2 linked regions of the Homo sapiens genome follow. The protein of the gene in region 2 purifies or fractionates together with the protein of the main gene of each other region. This does not show direct contact. Each region holds a gene or a part of one and is shown on either strand. Other genes may lie near its edges. The genes, in order: SERPINA12 and SEC22C.

Evidence for each region.
Region 1: the proteins of SEC22C (region 2) and SERPINA12 purify together in Homo sapiens (affinity purification with mass spectrometry; 3 studies listed by BioGRID and IntAct, with this or other methods). This does not show direct contact.

The regions. Positions count from the first base shown.
Region 1 is NC_000014.9:94,489,625-94,492,469, forward strand, and holds part of SERPINA12 (serpin A12 precursor), read right to left. Parts: intron 144-2,845; coding exon 1-143. UniProt on the Homo sapiens protein: Adipokine that modulates insulin action by specifically inhibiting its target protease KLK7 in white adipose tissues.
Region 2 is NC_000003.12:42,550,675-42,554,698, forward strand, and holds part of SEC22C (vesicle-trafficking protein SEC22c), read right to left. Parts: intron 2,775-4,024; coding exon 2,574-2,774; 3' UTR 1-2,573. UniProt on the Homo sapiens protein: May be involved in vesicle transport between the ER and the Golgi complex.

The sequences.
Region 1 (2,845 bases), on a different chromosome or scaffold from region 2:
CCACTTTCAGGCTGCGATGAGGGGCGATCTTGGTGAGATCACCATGTTCCTCAAAGATTTTGGAGACACCTATGTAGGAGAGAGTCTTCTTCAGGTCGAAGGTGCCCGTCATGTGGAGTCTGGGTACAGACACGTCTACGACCCTGGGGAATTGACACGACAAGGGTGAGTGGTCAAGTCCTGTTGTGTTGCAGGGCAAGCCTCAGGATACATGACCAATGAAACATGTGTCCTCCCAGCCCCAAAGGTCTCCAATCTCTCTCCATCCACAGAATGAGGAGGGGCTCCTTAACCCTGGGACCCTGGTTTCAAAACACCATAAGCTCTCTGAACCGTGTCCCTGCCTCCCAGCACACCTGCCCCAGAGCCCTCTACAGGGAGTGTTCTCAAGTCTCAAGTTCCCCCGTCTCAGAGCCCCTTCAGCCACAGTCACTGATGATGTCCACACTGTAGTCGCTGCCATGCCTGAGCCCTGAGCCCATCCTGACCCCAGAAGACCTGACACTGGAGGGAACAAGGCACCCAGAATCTGGAGGTAGACAGAACTGAGTTCAAATCCACTCTGCCTCTCATGAGCTCTGTGACCTTCCCTCTCTAAGTCACTTGTGTGAGAAGGAAAATGATCACCGTCGCTCCTGCGGGACACTAGGGGTGCTAAGGCAAATGCAGACAAGGCACTCAGCAGACAGTTGGTGCGTAGCAGGTGCCCATCCTCCTGCCCTCCAACTAGCAGCTTCACATCCTCTGTGGCTGAACCGCGATCAGCCTCCTGCCCGGAGCCTGGGGCCCAGGCTCTCCTGAGGTACCTGCAGACCCTGGATTCCCGTTCACCTGGCCTTGCACCCTATTTTCCCACCTACCCAAGGATCTCATTCCTGCCTATGTGTCCTCTCTCTCCTGCATCATCCTTAAACAGTGCCCCTTTGATCCTCCTCTGGAGGAGGCCTCATGCTAGAGTGACCCTATCCTCAAAAACTAACACCAAGAGATCTCTCTTGGCCCTGAATAGCCTCTCCAGCTTCCAGCTCATTTCTTTTCTTCCTTTTATAGCAGCTATCTCCACTCCCTCCCACAATTGCCTCAGTCCACTCCAGTCGGCTCTTTGACCTCAACTTTTTATGGAAGCAACTCTTTCCAGAGTCACCGTTGACAACCAGCCCCACGTCCCAGAGCCAGCTCTCAGTGAGCCGCACGTGATGGTAATCCCTTTCTCCAAGGTGAAGCATTCCAGGTCCACCCCTTGAGGCTTCTCCTCCTTCCCCACCACTCCTGCCCCTGTCGGGCTCCACCCCTCCCATCTCTACCGGTGACACTGCTGCTTCCAGGCTCAGACCTTGGTCCCCTTCTCTTTTCCACCTTCACTCCATCCCCATACATGTCATTCAGTCTCACAGCTTTGAATATCATCAACAGGCCCAACGACTCCCAAATTTACCTTTCCACTCATTCATTCACTCAACAAACATTTATTAAATCTCTACTGTATACCAGGTGCTGTTCTAGGTGCTGGAGATGCATCTATGAACAGAGCAGGCAAAGATCCCTGCCCCTGACTGTGTGTTCTAGCAGGGAAGACAGGTGATAGAATCAACACAACAAAAAGTACCACTTAAGCCTACATACATGTACTAGCGGTATGCAGAAGGCAGTAAGTGCTATGGAAAAAAATAAATAGATTGACTTGCAGGAATCGAGGATTGGTCCAAAGTTTGAGCAAACCTTGAGGCAGGCAAGAGAGTTAGACAAATTGGGGTTTTTTTTCCTGAATAAAATGGGGAGTCACTGTCGGGTTTTGAACAGAGGAGTGACATAGTCTTGCTTAGGATTTAAAAGGATCATTCTGTTGCCTCTGTTAAGAATATACTCTTGGTGGTGGTGGTGTGTGTAGTGGGGATGGGCAAAAATTGATGCTGGGAGACCATTTGGAAGCTAGTGTGGTAGTCACATGTTGGGAGCCACAGAGACGGCGGAAAGATACCAAATTCCAGATGTGGTTTGCTGTAGGCTAAAGGAGTTTCCTGACAGACTGAATGAGGCATTTGAGGGTGGTCAGGGTGACTCCAAGGTTTTTGGCTTGAGCAACTAAAAAGATGGAGTCACCACTGATTGAGATGGGCAGGCTTGGGGAGGTTCTCTGGGGACAGATCAGGAAGTCATTCTGGATGTGTTGACACTAAGCTCCAATTACACATCCTGGGGACATTCTGGGTAAACAGAAAGATCCACGACTCTGGAATTTGGGGGAGAACAGGGGCTGGGGATGGAAGCATGGCAGTCGTGGTAATAGAGATGGTGTTTAAAGCTCTTAGCCTGTGAGCTCACTCAGGGGTAAGTATAGACAGAAAAGAAGGCTGGGAACTGAGCCCTGAGACACTCACCTCTGAGACCTGGAGGAGGAGAGGGGTCTCCAGCAAAGGAGATTGAGGAGGGGAGAGGTGGGAGGTGATGTGAGAGTGGAGAGCTGGAAGCCAAATGAAGAGTGCCTTAAGGAGGTGGGGACAGAAACCAGCCGAAGAGCGAGGCCTGAGACTGACTGCACTCTGCAACACAGACACCCTTGGGACCCTGGGAAGGGAGCTTTCTGTGAGAAGTGGGTGCAGAAGCTGGACTGGAGTGGATTTAGGAGAGGATGAGAGGAACTAGGGGCTGTGAACAGAGGCAACTGCTTCATGGTATTCACCTGCAAAGGGGGAGTGACGAAATGGAGGAATAACTGGGGGAAAGCAGAGGTCAAGAGAAGCTTTTATGTTGGGAAAAATAATAGCATTGAGATTTCCTGCAGGCCAGCACAAGCCATACAGGCCTGCCTGCACAGAAGGCAGACACCTGCTTTGTCTTCTTGCAT
Region 2 (4,024 bases):
AACATCTCTGGTAGTGCCTCGGTGGTCAGGAAGCATTACCAGGAAGGACTCATCTTCAAGGACCGTTTCTTTACTGCCTGCTGAATATGGATCATAGGCTCAGATGCCCAAAGCACCTGGGGTACAGGTCTACATGGCAACCCAATGCCACATAGGAAAAGAAAACAGTCCATTTTTAAGCCGTTCTTACCGACTTTTTTTTTTTTTTTTTTTGAGACGGAGTCTTGCTTTGTCACCAGGCTGGAGTGCAGTGGCTCGATCTCGGCTCACTGCAACCTCCACCTCCCGGGTTCAAGAGATTCTCCTGCCTCAGCCTCCTGAGTAGCTGGGGCTACAGGCACAAGCCACCGTGCCCAGCTAATTTTTGTATTTTTAGTAGAGATGGGGTTTCACCATGTTAGCCAGGATGGTCTCGATCTCTTGACCTCGTGATCTGCCCACCTCAGCTTCCCAAAGTGTTATTGACTTTTAAAGCTTTTTTGTTCTTCTCATTTAAAACATTTTACCTCCCCTCCTTAACTTCCCATTCTATTTCACCATCTCTTCAAAATTGTCTCCCAGAAAAACTGAAAATTCACCTGCTGGGTATGCAGAAAATTATGCAGATGTGAAATCAGTGTAGAGACAACTTTGGAGTTTATGTCTGAGTATGCTGCCAATATAATTTTCATATTCAGACTTTTTAGAGACAGGGTTTCACTCTGTCATGCAGGCTGGGGTGCAGTGGTGTGATTATAGCTCATGGAAGCCTCAAACTCCTGGACTCAAGGGATCCTCCTGCCTCAGACTCCCAAAGTGCTGGGATTACAGGCATGTGCCATCACATCCGGCTAATTTTTTTTTTTGTAGAGATGAATCTTACTATGTTGTCCAGGCTGGTCTCAAACTACTGGCCTCAACCGAGTCTCCTGCTTTGGCCTTCCAAAGTGCTGGGAATACAGGCATGAGCCATCATGCCTGGCCCATATCCAAATATTTTATGTTTGGTCAAAAATAGAAAATTCTATTATAAAAAATAAAGTTACTATGGCAACATTTTCCCAACATAGTTCCCAGTATATAAACTTATTTTTCTTAAAATGATAACAAGGTAGCTCAATAACAATACAATACCAGTGATAACCAAATATAATTGAATTTTTCTAAAACTACATTCTTACATTCCCTATCCACTCAACTCTTGTAATGGTTTTCCACTTTTAAAAACTATCAAAATAGGATTTTTAAAAATTTATCAAGACCACATAATGCAGTTGAACACTCAAAGTGTTCCATGCAACTGTGGTTGAACTATTCAGATTCCAGACTTCTACCAAGAACAATCCAAAGAGCAAACTCCCAAAATGACCTCCTGCGTGGTACAAAACAAGCCAGGCTGAAATTTCGGGAAACCTAAGGGATCTTATCCAGAACCATATTTTGGAAAACTGTGATCAATCAATTTTTTGACAGTGAAAGAGAGTAACTTTCCAGAGTATGTGTTAATTATATCTCTATCAAGCTTTAAAAAGTTAACAGATACTTAACTCTTGTTCATAAAAAATGAGGCCCTCAAGCTAATTAAGATGACTGGGAAAGGTGCAGAGGAGTAATTAATTTTGGAGGCGCTCTGGGAACAGGTACACAGGGTACAGTAGTCATCATCATTAAAACAACAGGCACTCAGCTCTACTGAAAAGGCTGATGACAGCAGCCCCTCCCAAGCGGATCTGTAAAGTGCCACTGAATCCATGTTCATTCACCTACTCCAGGTTGTGGTCAATTGTAAGTAATCCTGAAATTCTCATTTCTGCTCATGCTGACAAACTTATCATCTAGAAGTACTGGTTATTCAATTAATTTTTAAAATATTCGGATATACCCTGCAAATAAATATAAAACATCTCTGTACCCAAACAGTCCCACCACTATAAAAGGTTACATATAAATTAAATAAACTCAGATTTCTTAACCATTTTCTCAGCTTAAGTTTGCCCTCACCCTAAATGAAGTCCAATTTATATCCAAAATATAATTAAATATTCCAAAGGTATATCGAACCTAAGATATTGAAAAAATGTAAACAAAATTTATCTAGCTTACATTTATGAACCATATTTTTAGGTTTTTAATTCATCCTGTACTGACCCTCTGAAAAAAAAAACTAATCAAGTTATGTTTAGACTGAAAGCTGATTTGGATTTTAAAGTGGTTCCTTGGAGACAACTCTCAATGACTAAAACCAGTGTTATTGAATCAAGTGGTTTACTGTATCATTCAACTTAAAAGACCAAAATATTTCCTTTCTCTCTTCCAATAAAGCTCTTTCTGGATGAGCCCCCAGATCCAGCTGTCCTAGGTAAACGTGCTGAACTGGCTGGAGATCCTGCAGTAATGCTTGGCACAGAACCAAGGCTGGGTATCAAGCAACCTCATGACTTCCACTGCAACTGTTTAACATCCCCAATTCCTGGTTTTTCAGTCCAGTTGGCTGAAAAGGATGGAAACTGGAGTGTAAAGTAGAGAAGCAGAAAGAGAAACATAGATTGATCCTCAAAAGAAAATCAAAGAATCCATTCATCACAGTGTCATCCTCATACTCCACAGTCAGACTGCTTCTCCTGAAGCTGCCTTGTTAGTATCTGATATGAAGACAGAAAAGCCACTCCTATGTGGAAAAGGATTTGCCAGAGGTTCCTCAGCCCGTGCAGGTACATGTTGCCCAGGCAAATAAAGAGCAGCATAAGCACCACCTTCATAGTCCTGGCTGGACTGTAGAACAGGTACAAATAACACTGAAATGAGACCAGAAGAGGAATTCCAATCAGAGATAAAATGGCCACTAGATCATATGCAAAATTCACCTCCCACAGCTTCCATGAAGAGTGTCATTTCTCTCACATTAGCTGATTAAACTGAATTCATTACAGTAAAGCGTGGACCCACTGGTTAGGCTGCTAATTATTGGACGAAAGTGAGGATTTGGAAGATTAAAGGAAAGTGAAATAGATGTCACAGGAAGAATCAGTGCATGGCACATCTGAAAGAAGTTAAAGAAATAGACAGAAATGACCAGGCTGTTGGCAGTAGAGAAAGAAGAGCTGCACATAAGCTGCAGACAGCCAGGCTGCAGACAGGGGACCCTAACGTGACTGACTGGCCCCCCAGTGAAGTTTTTCTTCAGGGAGCCAGGACAGGCAAGCAAGCTGGTGAGAGAAAGCCATGCTTTTACTATTTTGGTTTCTCCTGAGCCACGACTACATTGAGCACCACTCTTCCCTTGGGCACCCTCCTTATCATGTCTTCCAAAGCATCTCTGAGTCAGGGAAAGGTCTCACAGCAGGGAGAGTGACTGGTATTTTGTGTATGACTATCACACATAAAAGGGGCCATTCTTGTTCTGCAAAAGGTGGAAACGGCATTTTGGTTCAATGCTTTGTTTTTTTTTTTTAAAAAAAGGACATCACTGAACATGGATCAATCTGACAAAGGTTCAATCTACAGAGGGAGGGAGTGAGCTATCCAACCAGGAACACAGTTGAAGGAATGAGGTGGAACTGTACAATCCCTGCAGTCCTAAAACATAGCTCTAGGAAACTGCCACTGGCTATGTCCAAGGTCTTGGAGACTTGTTTTCTAAAAAATGAATGCATTTTCATGGGTTGAAAATTTCTTTTTGCATAATCAGGTAATGCTTTTTCATTTTTTTTAGGCAATGTCTTTCTCTGTTGCCCAGGCTGGAACACAGTGGCGTGATCTCAGCTCACCGCAACCTCCACCTCCAGGGTTCAAGCAATTCTCATGCCTAAGCCTCCCAAGTAGCTGGGACTACAGGTATGCACCACCATAATCAGCTGATTTTTGTATTTTTATTATAATAGAGATGGGGTTCCCTAGGCTGGTCTTGAACTCCTGGCCTCAAGTGATCCACACATCTTGGCCTCCCAAAGTGCTAGGATTACAGGCATGAGTCACCACACCTGGCCTGGGTAATTCTTAAGAATAAACCATTCTAGGATGTATGTGGAAGAGAAGGAAAGCGTCC